Homo sapiens: one gene and its partners. The protein of the gene in region 1 purifies or fractionates together with the protein of each later gene. This does not show direct contact. Each region holds a gene or a part of one and is shown in the gene's direction. Other genes may lie near its edges.

The links.
Region 2: the proteins of AKT3 (region 1) and AFAP1 purify together in Homo sapiens (affinity purification with mass spectrometry; one large-scale study listed by BioGRID and IntAct). This does not show direct contact.
Region 3: the proteins of AKT3 (region 1) and WDR1 purify together in Homo sapiens (affinity purification with mass spectrometry; one large-scale study listed by BioGRID and IntAct). This does not show direct contact.
Region 4: the proteins of AKT3 (region 1) and CALD1 purify together in Homo sapiens (affinity purification with mass spectrometry; one large-scale study listed by BioGRID and IntAct). This does not show direct contact.

Annotation. Positions count from the first base shown.
Region 1 is NC_000001.11:243,843,744-243,847,243, reverse strand, and holds part of AKT3 (RAC-gamma serine/threonine-protein kinase), read left to right. Parts: intron 1-3,500. UniProt on the Homo sapiens protein: AKT3 is one of 3 closely related serine/threonine-protein kinases (AKT1, AKT2 and AKT3) called the AKT kinase, and which regulate many processes including metabolism, proliferation, cell survival, growth and angiogenesis.
Region 2 is NC_000004.12:7,772,362-7,775,861, reverse strand, and holds part of AFAP1 (actin filament-associated protein 1), read left to right. Parts: exon of another isoform or gene 1-958; coding exon 959-1,123; exon of another isoform or gene 1,124-2,851; coding exon 2,852-3,042; exon of another isoform or gene 3,043-3,500. UniProt on the Homo sapiens protein: Can cross-link actin filaments into both network and bundle structures. May modulate changes in actin filament integrity and induce lamellipodia formation.
Region 3 is NC_000004.12:10,089,300-10,092,799, reverse strand, and holds part of WDR1 (WD repeat-containing protein 1), read left to right. Parts: intron 1-3,500.
Region 4 is NC_000007.14:134,929,634-134,933,133, forward strand, and holds part of CALD1 (caldesmon), read left to right. Parts: intron 1-3,354; coding exon 3,355-3,500. UniProt on the Homo sapiens protein: Actin- and myosin-binding protein implicated in the regulation of actomyosin interactions in smooth muscle and nonmuscle cells (could act as a bridge between myosin and actin filaments).

The DNA of each region.
Region 1 (3,500 bases):
AACTGAAAAACCATTTTCATTTTGAGCAAATCAGTCTTGTGATCTGACTGGCATTTTTATTTTTAAGTTAATATGCATTAATAATACAATTAATTTTTGTTAGAAGATTTGTGTTACTCCAGGTTTCAGCATGTGCATCAGTATTTTAAATCCTGGTCACACAGCATACCTTCTTTTGGAAAGATAGTCCTGAATCTTCCGACAACAAATACTTTGTCCTGATCTTTTACATGGGATAGGATTAGATTCAGTTTAGAGTTAATGCTAACCAATGCCTGGTAAGCAGTTGCCATGTGCCAGGCACTGTTCTATGTGCTTTACCTGTATTCATTTAATCTTTCAAACAACCCCTGCTACACTTTTGAAAGTGATTTTCACATAAGAAAAACTTATTGTGGCATTCTAAAAATACCTTTTATTTAAACTTTCCTAATTCTGCAACACTTCTAGTGTTTTTCTTGTTTGTACCTATTATTACAGTTAACAGTGATAATTCTAAATTTGCAAAATTTGGTACAATAATTTCCATAGCATCAAGTTAATAAAAGTGTATTGACTGGCCCATTAACATCACCTTTCATTTGTTTAAAATGCCAAATTAAATAACTCAAATGTTTACAGATTTTATTATAGCATCATAGTCTTTAATCAAATTAGATGTAAACTCATTTTCTCTGCCAAGTAATCTTTGAATACTAATGGGTAGATAAAATTAATATATGCTTCTTGACTTGTTGATGTGTTTTTTAGTTCTGTTTCTTTTCAGTACTCTATCACCAACTACAGGTATTTCTCATTTCTAAATATTATGAGAGGAAAGTAAAAAGATTTACTAGAAGAAAACACTAGAATTGCAAATGATAATTTTTCTTCCCTATATTAGATAATTCCTATATATATATGGATGGATTTAAAAAAATTTATAATTAGGGAGATTCCCAAGACAGATTTTAGGAGGATTTTACATGTATATTGGAATCTATATTAGAAAGCTTCTGACTGTATTTGGGGGACTAGGGGATGGGAGGGGAAGGAGGACAGTATTTTTCCAATAATGGAGCTTAGCCCAAATTTTGTCTTAGTTGAAATGCTGTTTGAATGTTTTATCTTCCAATTATCAAACTTTTGAGGACATGAACTATGTATGTATAATCATGTCTTTCACTTATGATGCCATCTATATATGAAGTAGATACTCCGTAGATTTTAACTTGCAGAATCATAAATATTAGCTCTGGAAGAGCTATAAAGCTATTCAGAGTTCATCTAATGCTATACTTTCATTTTTATGGCTCCGGAAACTGAGGCACAGATAATTAAAGTGACCTTATACAGCATCACTCTGGGTGGGGCAGGGACTCAAGTTTCTTGGTCTTTCTGGTGCTCTTCCTAATACACCATTGTGATGAACCTTGTTAGAGGATTCCATACCTATTGGGTAGCTCAGTTTAATCTGGGGGTAAATTCTGTCAAGCTGATTCTTGGTATTTAATGGACCATATATCAATTGCATTTTATATGTATGTATGGATTTTTAAAAATTTATGATGAGGCTCCCAAGACAGATTTTAAAATGATTTTACATGCATATTACAAAAATATGGCCAACTGTGCAACCAAATTCTTTTTCTTTTCTTTTCTTTTTTTTTTTTTTTGAGACAGGTTCTCACTGTAGCACCCAGGCACGGTCACCACTCAGCATAGCCTAGACTTCCTGGGCTCAGGTGATCCTCCCACCTCAGCCTCCTGAGTAGCTGGGACTACAGGTGCCTGCCACCACTCCCAGCTAATTTTTGTATTTTTTGTGGAGATGGGTTTTGCCATGTTGCCCAGGCTGGCCTTGAACTCCTGGACATAAGTGATCCTCCTGCCCTGGCCTCCCAAAGTGCTGGGATTACAAACTAATATCCCTTTTTGACACTCTACAGCAACAGACTCATGGTGATTTTGAGGAGTCTCAGCCTTACCTATAGGTTCTGCCTGTGACCTCATAATACATGAGGCTGGTGGTCTTGCATTCAGCTACATAGCTTTTGTCAGGCTATTTAGTCAGGCTGTCTAGAGAATGTTTAGTCTTGATTCCTGACTGTTAAATGGTTAAGCTCCACACTTAATTTGCATTGAAGAATGACCTGTAGTCTAATTTAGCGCTAGGTTGGGAGTCTAACACTGAACTTAACTGCTATGTATCATTTATCACAAACCAAGTTGAGAGAGTATGTTTGTGTAGTCCATCTATCCATTTTTCTAGTTATCTAAAATTTATGATATGATTCTTGACCACATAACACTGGTGTACCTGGACCACATTTTTTGGTCCCCTTCTGTGCAAATGGATTTACTAATTTTATGTTGGCATTTTCCTTTTTAGTTTGAGAGTGACAATAAGCAATGACCCTGTAAAACTCATTGCTGTATATGGGAGGGTGTTTTTGAGGACTTTCCCGCATACATCTTATGAAGAAGACCCATGGGATAAATTCGATGTTTGTCCCAGGAAAAGTTGTATTTCTTCTGAGGAACTTTTTTTGCTTTTTAAAAAAATTTGTGCAGCGTGGACAATATAGCGGGACCCCATCTCCACAAAAATTTTTTTTAAAAATTAGCTAGGCATGGTGATGCCTGCCTGTAGTCCAGCTCCTCAGGAGGCTGAGGTGGGAGGATTGCTTGACCCCCATTGGAGGCTGCAGTGAGCTATGATTGTGCCACTCTACTCTAGCCTGGATGATGGGGGGAAACCCCATCTCAAAAAAAAATTTTTTTTGGATACTGTAAATAGGAAAGCCTGTTGTGTTTTGTTATTTGCATTGTCTTCCCAAGAGCTCCATGCCAAATTTGTGACGTATCTTTCCCAAGTATGTATGCCTTTACTCTGACTTCTTTTTATCTTAAGGCAGTATAGTTTTGGAATGCAGGCTCTGGAGTCAGACAGCCTGGGTTCAGATCTTGGCTCCACATTTACTAGGTGTGTTGAAATTGAGCAAGTTGGTTTATCTGTGTGAGCCTCAGTTTCCTTGTCTGTGAAATGGAATTAATAGTATCCTCATAAGGTTATAAAGATCACATAAGAATAATAGATGTAAGTACCCGTAACAGTTCTTGGCACATCTTGAGTACTAAATATTTTTTTCTACTTTCATATTCCCTTTGTTTCACTTTACTTTATAATAAGTACATAATATGAAATCAATTATTTTTTAATCTCCTTAAAATATTTCTTGGAACAGGCAGAGTAAGAATACGTAAATGATGAGTTCTTGGTACGTTGTATTTTATATCACTTAAAGTATTCACGACTGGTTGTGGTGGCTCACTTCTGTAATCCCAGCACTTTGGGAGGCTGAGGCGGGTGGATCATGAGGTCAGGAGTTTGAGACCAGCCTGGCCAATATGGTGAAACCCCGTTTCTACTAAAAATACAAAAATTAGCAGGGCGTGGTGGCGCACACCTGTAGTCCCAGCTGCTTGGGAGGCTGAGGCAGAAGAATCGCTTGAACCTG
Region 2 (3,500 bases), on another chromosome or scaffold:
TGTGTTGCCCATTTGTGTTTGTTCTAAGTGCTTTATAAATATTTAATCCTCGTAACCACTCAGTGAATTGCCTGCTCTTACTATCCCCATTTCACGGATGAGGGAAACTGAGGCACAGAGGGATTCGTGCCCTGTTCCAGGTCATGCAGCTACAAGTGTAAGCTGGGACTCCTTCCTAGACAGTCAGGCTCCAGATACCGCTCCTGGTTGCCTCTTCATGTATCCGTTGTTCATTTATTCACTAAACAAGCATTTATTGTGCCACACTCCGTGCCGGGTGCTAATCTCAGTGCTGGGGGTGTAGCAGCAATTCAGAGCCAGTCAGATGACATGGCCATAAGGAACAGATACTGCGGTGTTAGGGAAGGATTTGAAGACGTAGAGAAGGAAGCAAATTTCAGACATTATTTTTGATATTACTCCTGTCTTTTCCGATTATAGAATGTTCATTCTCCACCTTGTTGCAGATTAATTATAAGCCGTGTGCCTCAAAGGGAAGTGAATTAAAGGAATTTCCTAATATTCTGTTTTCGTTTTTAAGAATTTGATTCAAAGAATATTGGAGAATTTGAACTAGTCACTTTTCTGCTTGGTTCATACCAGCCCTGTCCTTTTCTTGTTGAATTAGCAAAATAATGCTTTGTGTTTGTTTACTGAGTTGGCTGATTCAACAGGCTTTTTGAGTTACCCCATTATCTGCTTGAATAAACCTAATTTTTTTTTGACACGGGGTCTCACTGTCATCCAGGCTGGAGCACAGTGGCAGGATCACAGCTCACTGCAGCCTCAAGCTCCCAAGCTCAAGCGATTCTCCCACCTCAGCTTCCTGAGTAGCTGGGACTATAGGCATGTGCCGCCATGCCTGGCTAATTTTGTATTTTTTGTGGAGAAGGGATCGTCCCATATTTCCCAGGCTAGTAAACCTAATTTTTAATTGCTGCTTTTTTTTCTTCTCAAGATGCTGCCCAGTACAAGTATGGCAAGAACCGGGTAGAAGCAGATGCCAAGCGGCTACAGACCAAAGAGGAGGAGCTGCTGAAGAGGAAAGAGGCCCTGCGGAATAGGCTGGCCCAGCTCCGCAAGGAAAGAAAAGACCTTCGAGCGGCTATTGAAGTGAACGCCGGTATGAAGGGTGTGGGTGACTGCCCAGGGTGCATGTTTGTATTAGAGACTGGAGATTTCATTCTGCTTTGCCCAAAGGACCTATTGCTCACCAAGGCTGTCATTTTATTTAGTAAGAGTGGGTTATCTCACAGTGTTTCTTGGGGCTTGGAAACATTGCTGGTAACCCCGAGGCAGGTGCCTGTGTGGTCAAACATGCGGCGTGCAGGCAGAGGCCAGGGCCAGACCCACACGCTGCTCACCGAGGCAGGGGAGGTGCTGGGGGACCTGTTCCGGCTTCTGGCGCTGACAACAGAGATTGTCTGGAGGATGGCCCCTGTATCCGCAGGACGCAGTAGATTCTGGTCACCGGGTAGGAGGGATCAGCTGGATTTCTCTACAGAGGGTAGCCCACAGGGGTCAGTAATATTCAGAAGTCCAGACAAGGGTAGAAGCAGCCCCTCGTTTGTTGAGAAGGGACAGGCGAGAGCAAGGCAGCATCTGTCTTGGGATGCATCAGGGAAGAGGCCAGGCTAATGGAATACAGACACCAGAGAGGGACTGAAGTCACAGAAACTGAGTTTGCAGCCAGAGTGGCAGCCCTGGGCCAGGCGCGTGCAATTCCTGCTGGCGGGAGCTGGCGCTCAGCTCCTGAGCCTGGGGTGGCACCGCTTACCTACGCATGGCCTCCCTTCCAGCCCGGTGCTTAGACTACGGAAGACTGGCTCCTTAGATTGAGATTGTACTGGCCTGGGCTGGGACGGGGGCTTCAGATGCCTCAGAGCCCTGGGTGGTCCAGAGAAGAGGCTGTGGCCTTCCCATGGCTCGCCGCGCGGGGAGGAGCTGACGCACACCCAGCAGGTGGTTAGCAGCTCCAGCCTTGCTGGACTTTGTGCCTCAATGATCTGATGAAGGGAAATGCTTTTGGAGTTTAGAGGAGGGAAGGCAGGTGTTGGCAGGGCAGGTCGGGCTGACCCTATAGGAGGCCCAGGATGTGGCCTGCAGTCTGAGGCTGACCCTACGGGAGGAGGCTGTGCCAGAGAATGGGACGGGGCATGGAGTTTAATGAGACAGAAGTAGCATTTCTCCCGTGTTCCCAGCTTGCAGGATAGTGAAGATGCAGGAGGGCCAGGAGTGCTTTTGGCTTTGAAAAAGAGAACCTCGCCTGCCGGCCACCACCGGCCCAGGCCCTGGGCACAAGTCCGTTCACCTCTTGGGATTGGTGTTCTCATCTGCCCAGTGGGTGCATCTTAGGTCACTGCAGCAAACCTCAAATAAAATAAGTGAATGTGCCTTAAAGAAATGTGTGCCATGTCCAGTAGAGATGCAAGCTGAGCTACTGTTCATTGCCTCGGGCGCAAATAAGATGACTGAAGGATCGGCGGAGCGTTAGGGGAGGACAGGGTTCACACTCCAAGAAGGTGGCAGCTTTGGGAACTGTGGAGTTTAGGGTCCACGTTTTAAAATGAGAACATTGAGGCCCAGAGCCAGGAGCTCCTGGCCTTCGTCAGAATCAGCATCTCCTCTTTCCTGGTCCGAGTCCTCAACGGCTGCAGCAAAGGGAAATGGTAGGAGAAGGACTCTGATCCCTTAGAGAACTGCTGAATTTAAGTTTCACAACGAGGACCTAAGTCAGGGGAGCTCGACCTCAGACGTTTTGTGGAAGTTCTTCTTGGGGACCAGGTGCCTTCTCTGTTGTTTGGAGAACCTGTGCCTGCCGCGGGAGTAACGGCGTTTCTGGGAATTCCAGGCAGGAAGCCGCAGGCGATCCTGGAGGAGAAGCTGAAGCAGCTGGAGGAGGAGTGCCGGCAGAAGGAGGCGGAGCGTGTCAGCCTGGAGCTGGAGCTGACGGAGGTCAAGGAGAGCCTGAAGAAAGCGCTGGCGGGCGGAGTCACCCTGGGGCTGGCCATCGAGCCCAAGTCAGGGACATCGAGTCCACAGGTGTGTGTCCTTCTGGCTCACCTCGGAGGCTGGCGCGGCCTTGCGTGGCCGAGGGCCAGTGCACCCAGAGAGAATGTGGAGTGGCTCTGGGGCGTAGCTTGCTTGTGGCCCCTTAGTGTGCCCAGCAGAAGACAGTTCATGTGTTAGCATCAGACACTTTCATCGGCCGGGCCTGTGTTCCTGACATGCTTTCTCACCTCTCGCTGAAATGTTAAAAGCTGTGGAAATGCTGAGTCTGTGTCTTTCCCCTTTGCACAATCTGTTTAGAACAGATCCAGTCCTCGTGTCTCTTCTGAACCAGGTCATGATTTGATGCCAGTTCAGTAGAGCCGGTGCTTACAAACCGTCTAACATGTCTGAGAGTTAAGCCAGGTGCTGGGGAAACTGAAATGAATGAAGCAGTCTGTGTCCTCTTAGAATCAAACAGAACAAAGTGGGGTCCTCTTCCCATGTGAGTC
Region 3 (3,500 bases), on another chromosome or scaffold:
CCCCGGGAGGTTCCCCAATCCCTCTCCCTCTTTGTTCACTGGCCGGGCCTCCGTGTGGAAAGGGCTATTTTTAGCCCTCGCTTTTTTTGGTTAATGGGCTTTTCGCGGCTTCTCTCTTTGAAGGGGCTATTTCAGGAGCAGACATCAGTGTCTGCATTTGGACTCCTTGGCTCGAGGTGCAGGAAAAGGTGATGGGGATGAGCTACTCGAGGGGCATCTGTGTCCCTGGACTGTGCCGGGCCCCTCCCTTGCCCCTGCTGGGTTCTGGGGCCAGGGAGGGACACATGACACCACCCTGCCAGAGCCTGTGGGAGGCGTCGGCAGAGGTGAACCACAGACTTGGATTTGGGGTCCTGGGGTTTGCGCGAGCAGGAATGTCCTCGCTTCTGGGACCTGGAACTGGAGTAGGAATGTCCATGTTTTGACCTCAGGGAGCCACTGAAATGGGCACTTGTGACAGGTTGGAATTGAACAGTGGCTGATTAGTTTCCTCCATTTTGTAGCAAGAGCCATCAGCGTCCACTGTCCCACCCACTCATCTGGGCTTGGGTGATTCGGGCATTTGGGGTGAGCTCTTTTCTCTTAGTTCTTAACTCATTCGTCAGAAGGACCCAGGGGTCAGCCAGGCCCAGCCATCTCCCTGGCCCACTGCACTTCAAGGAAGCTCAGGCTGGCTTGGAGGAGCCAGTGCGAAGTCAGCGGCAAGGCGAGGCTGTGCTGGCCAAGGAAGCGGAGTTCGGCAGCGAGAGAACTCGATGTGCTGGTCAGAGGTCTAGGATTCGAGCTGTGGTTATGTCATGGTCAAGGTTGTGTGGCCTCATCTGGAAGGAGTAGTGGTGCATACACCCCTGTCCACCCCCCGCCCAACAGGGGGTCTAGAAGTGCTTTGCCTCAGGCCCTCCCACCACTGCCTTCACTGCAGCCGGCTCCTTCCTGCAGCTCTCTCGGGAACTGCCCTGTGAGGCCCTTTGACACAGGGAATGTGGACCCTATGGACTGACATGGACAAGGGACCGTGGGCCATGTTGACACAGATAGGAGGTGGACCCCATCGGCTAACCCCGACGGGAACAGGCCCTCAGTGCATGACGGCTCCCTCATGGTGGGTAACAGCAGAAGGGGGGATGCAAATGGGCCTGCGGAGTTAGGGATCTGACCTCTGGGATGACTCTGGGCTGGAGCACCCCCAGGCTTGCTGAGCAGCTGCCCAAGGCCCAGGAGCCAGCGCAGCTGAGACGAGAGCTCTGGACAGGAAACTGGAGACCAGATTCGTGCAGGTGATGTGGCTTTGAGTTACCCGCTGCTCCAGGCCTGGTGTTCTCCTGTGAAGAATTTGCCCGCAGGCTCTCCATGGCCCCTCGGGGGGTAAAGCGTCTCTGGAGGGCCCTGGAGCCCCATCTGGAAAGTTGGTTTTCACTCTCAGCAGCTGAGTGGATCGGGCCTTCTGGGGAAACTGCTTTCCCCAACTTCACATACCTAGAAGTGCTAGAAAACTTAGAACACAGACCATTTAAGCAAAGAAGACCAGCCTTAGAACTAGTGAAAAAGGTACAAAAGGAACTAAAGAAGCAAGATGCAGAACTGCGCTTAAACACAAGGAAGGGTGACCTCTAGCACCATAGCCAGAGACGACCGTCCAGTCCTGTGTTCCCCGTTCCATCTCCTAGTGAGCCCTGGGCCCGCCTGGGTACTGCACGCCTTGTAGTTTGGCACTGCCTTGCCTGGCCAAGCCTTGCAGCACCCAGGTGCGGGGGGCAGGCAAAGGGCTCGCCAGCCCCATCGCTCATGAGCTGATCACAGACCTGAGCCCAAGTTCAGACTGAGCCAGCCTGGTGCTTCCATCCCTGTCCTCTTGGGCGGTGACCACAACCTACAGAGGACGAGCTCTTCAGTCATAGAACGGAATGCAAGCACCATGACAGCACTCCCTGAAATGAGGCAGGGAGGACAATCTGCTCATCCACTGGGATGGAAACGTGACTGTCGTCGCCCTCAGTAGCTCCCGAGGAGCACTGGGACTCCCCTTGTCAGAATGTGTGATTTCTCCGGCTTTCATCTAAGTTAAAACACGGGTCAATGAGGTGGGAGATCCTGGTTCAGGTGCAGGGCCAGGGCCTGCTGGGCCTGTGTCCAGCCTGACCCCAGCCGTGAGCAGGTCTTGGCAGCACCCTGAGGAGGGCTTACCTGAGGCAAGCAAGTTTGGGTTGTTGGCTGGAGGAAATGGTTTAATCTTTGAAGTGCAGGAAGCCCAGGGTTGCTTTTGTGCCACAGGTCTGGGGTCGCATCACTCTTGGGCCTAGAGAGATTTCTGGGGCGGGGAGTGGCCTCTCTACGAGAACTGCCTGCCCTGGGGACATTGCCAGACTGAACGGTGTCTGTATCTTCTGCTGACTCTGACGGACTTTGTGGGGACATCGATTTCCTTGAGTGTGGCCCTTGGGACCCCCAGGCACCTGATTCCTCTTTCTGGGCCTATGTTTCCTCATTGGTGAAATGGGCACAGCTCACCTTGGTGGGTTATTACATGAGTGTCAGAGGCAGCATTGATGACATGTGTTAGTGTGCCGCAGCTGCCATAACAAAGTTTGTTAAGCCACAGATTGGGTGCCTTAAACAATGGAAATTTATTCTCTGGAAGTCAGAAGTCTGTAGTCAAGGTGTGGGCAGGGACGCACTCCGAGTCCTTCCTTGTCTTTCCCAGATACTGACAGCCCTGGGGGTTACTTTTTGTGAGCAGAACTCCCATCTCTGCCTCCAGCTTCACCCCAACTCTGTATCTGTGTCCAGATTTCCCTCTTAAAAGGACACCAAGTCCTGCTGGATTTACAGCCTGCCCTAATGACCTCATTTTAACTGGACTGCATCTGCAAAGACCCTGTTTCTGAATAAGGTCTCATTGGGTCCCAGGGTTGGGACTTCAGCATGTCTTTTGGAGAGGCACAATTCAACTGAAAACATTACACAATCAAACACAGGCAGGTCCCCCACACAGGTAGCTCATGCTTTAAAATTAAGTCCGTGATTTACTTAGAGCGCGGGGCAGCTTATCCGCCTTGGGGTTGAATTGCTTTTCCTGAAGGTTAGTGTTCGTACCTGCTGAGCAGCGAGCCCTTCCTGTGCCAAGAGAGTTGTTAGCACTGGATGTGCATTTGCCGGGTTAGCGCCGCCTGCAGGTGGGCAGCAAGAGGGCAGGGCAGGTGTTGGCAGCTTTACAACTGCTTATTTAAGGATCAGTCTCTGATACAAACTCTTGTTGACTGCGGAAAGAATGCATTCATTTCCTTATTCGAGTAACAGAGTCGCCCCTGGAAGTCATGTCATTTCCTTTTAGTCGCTCAGGCTCTTGTTCTTGATGAAGGTCATAATCATTAACTTTGTTTAAAAGTTAATTATTGGCCAGGCGCAGTGACTTACTCCTGTAATCCCAGCACTTTGGGAGGCCAAAGCGGGGAAACATGAGGTCAGGATACTGAGACCATCCTGGCTAACAAAGGGAAACC
Region 4 (3,500 bases), on another chromosome or scaffold:
GTGTGTGTGTGTGTATATATATATATATATATATATACACCACATTTTCTTTACCCACTGCTTGGTTGATGGGCATTTAAGCTGCTTCCATATTTTTGCAATTGCAAATTGTGCTTCTATAAACATGCGTGTACCAGTATATTTTGCATATAATGACTTCTTTTCCCCTGGGTAGATACCCAGTAGTGGGACTGCTGGATCAAATGTTAGTTCTACTTTTAGTTCTTTAAGGAATCTATACTGTTTTCTGGTAGGTTATATCTTTAAATAAGGAAAAGTATTTACATTTATTCTGTAGGGTGTTGCTATCTGTTTTGAACTGAAGATATGTTAGTTTAGTAGAGTCCTCCATGGCTACCATTAATAGGTAACACGTGAATTTTTAAAGTGGGCATGAATTGCAGATGTCTTCTTTTTTCTAATATACAGCCTGAATCAATAGTCTCTGATCATTATAATATTCAACAAGATACAGAATTCCGCTTAATTTAATGTGATTATTCAAACACACTTAATGAGTTTGCTATTACGTATTTTCTCACTCGGGCCCTGGTTGAAATCAGGGAACTTGAGAATGCCTAATAGGTTCAACTTCTTCAAAGAGGGCTTTTGCAGCAGAAATAAGGTCACATGGTTCATTATGCTAATGGTTAGTATATGTCATTTATATTGTCATTTATGTGCCCCAAGGTCTAAAAAAGATGAGGATATTTGAGGAGGAAAATGGAGAAAATAATTTTAATTTAAAACCATGGACTGATTATAATGGTTACACTATATAAGATCTCACATGTGGTTTTGGTTTTAGTTTGTTTTGTTTAATTCAGTCTATTTAGAAAATTCTAAAGGGAATGGGTCCTGGCCTCCTTAACCCAAGTTTGAGAGGCTGTATTAGAAGGTTTCAGAAAGCAGTCTTGAAAATGTTGGCCGGTAGCACAATATTGTTTACCCTTTCCCTCAATAAGTAGCTTCTAATTGGGGAGTAGGTATAGCAAAGGGGAAATAGGTATAATTTCTAGGGTTCACTAATTGACTTTGACTCCCAATTTGACCTTTCACTAACTGTATTTCTTCAGTTAAATGGAAATAAAAATTATACCTTTCTCCAAAAAATGCTGCTAAACTTAAACTATGTAACAATACATGTAAAATGCAGTGTCTTACACATAGTAAGCACTCAATAAATTTTCACTGTTACCAGATTCTTAACACGGGAGGGCAACGTAGTCATTCACTGCCTTTTCCATTTTCAAGCTGAGAGAGAAATAATAGAAAGAGTTTTAAAAATGGCATTTTGATGCCTTTCCTGAATCTTGTTATTAATGAGTGGTCAACAGGAGCTTTAAAAATTACTGGTGATCTGTAGTTTTCTTGCTTTTAAAATCTTGCTTTTCCTTGTGCTTCTCTTCGGATATTTGGCTGTTATTCATTATTTCATGCTATTAATTGAAATCAAATTCTTTTTTTTTTTAGAAAATCATATTGAGGTCTGAGAATGTGTGATTTATCTCTGACATATTAGTTAGCCACAAGAAGAATAAGTCTTCTTGGGGCTAAACAACTCTAACTGGCATTTGATATCTACTGATAATTGTGGTCATGATTTATAAATAGGCAAAGAAATGTTCAATACAGTTTGTTGGTTTCTTAGCATAAGAGTACTTTAATCTGGCTAGCACTTTGGAATTTTGGTGCCTTTTAAAAATTATTAGAATTCAATTGATCCAAATGGCCCCTCTATAGACTTCCCCTTAAATTATAAATTTTTTGCATTTGTAGGGACATTTAATCCTTATATGTCTAATTTCATGGAGGCAATATCCTGAAGCAAAAGTAAAGGCCAAGAAAGTTTTAAAGCTAGTTTTTACTCTGCCATTTTCATTGTTAAATATGAAATGTGTTTTTTCCAAAATTAAGTGAATTTGAACGTTGAAAGGGCCAAGTTTGGTCTGAACTATGAAATTTGATGGAGTTTCTAAACATTGCAAGACAAATTCTTCCAACTCTGGTCACAGTTCTGGTATCACATGACTGGTTGTTTCCTGCAAATAGAAACCAACACCCTGGCTTGGACAGTGTCCAGCATCCTGCAGTAGTGAGGGAGGTGATGGACAACAGTTTAACTTTTGGAGATTTTCTTTCCTTTTTAAAATAAATGTCAAATTTAACTGCCCTTTTTCCACTGTAGAAAAGATGGACAAGAAACCCTTTATTCATGGAAATCTTGACAAAGAAGGTAGATTGTGTATACATTAGTTAGGGTAACGCTGGCTGCTATAACGATTAGTGCCCCCAAATTTTAAGTTTAGTGCAGTAACACTTACCATTATGCATATTTCTGTCTAGTTGGTAGAACCAGCCACCTGTCTTCTTTTCTCTTGTGACTCTCAATCCCTAGGGCTTGGTGCTCCCTGATCTACCAACAGACAGAGATAGAGAAGACAGGGAGTGCACCTCTGTTTGTTCATTGCCTTGGTTGGACACTTCTGTTTACATTTCATTGGCAGTTATTGGTCACATGGCCCGCCTAGGTGCAAAGAAGGGAGAGGGTGCAAATTTAATCCTTGAGTGGTGATCACTCCCCCCAACTATGGAAGGAGGAGCAGGAATTGTAAGGGACACTTAGATGTCTCTTCCATTGGGGTCACTGGCGTGAGTGTGGAATCTCAACACTGTAATGTACATTTTCTTCCTCTCAAAGTACCTTGGGAGCCTCCAATCCAGATCAGGAATTCTAGATGACTTGATGACATGGGAGAATACTACATGACATGGAAGGAATTCACTTATTATTTCAGTTTGATCCTTAAGTTTGAATTCCCCAAGAAGCAAGTCCAGAAACAACGATTTGACTGCAAGTCGTTTATTTGTAAGGTGATGCTAGGAAACACTGGTGGAGGTGTGGGAAGGTAAGACAGAAAAGGGAAGGCCACCAAATAAACGTTGCATGACCAAGCACATCACCACTGTGGGTATCTGGAGCTTCACTCCACTGGGAAACTCTGAGATCCAGTGTGGAATACACACCTCGGAGTTATCCCACTCAAAAAGTGAGGGGTGCTGAGGTATCTAAACACTCAGGCTATCAATTTTTGTTTGAAAACTGCTCCCAGGGGACATTAATACCGAAAGCACTTCTGGCATGTTGAGTAGACTCCAGTCCCCAGAGAAAGGCTTGCAAATGCTGTCAGCTGAAAGCCAGGCAGGCGTGTACTAAAATGGTAACGTACTGGGGATATGGGCAAGCTTGGCACTACTGGCATCTGCTGTAGTCCTGGGTAGCACAGGCTGTATGAATGCTGCTGACTGATGAATGAGCAAGCTGTCTTTGGTGTTGTTCTTTCTGTTGTACAGTGTGCCTGACGAGGAGGCCAAGACAACCACCACAAACACTCAAGTGGAAGGGGATGATGAGGCCGCATTCCTGGAGCGCCTGGCTCGGCGTGAGGAAAGACGCCAAAAACGCCTTCAGGAGGCTCTGGAGCGGCAGAAGGAGTTCG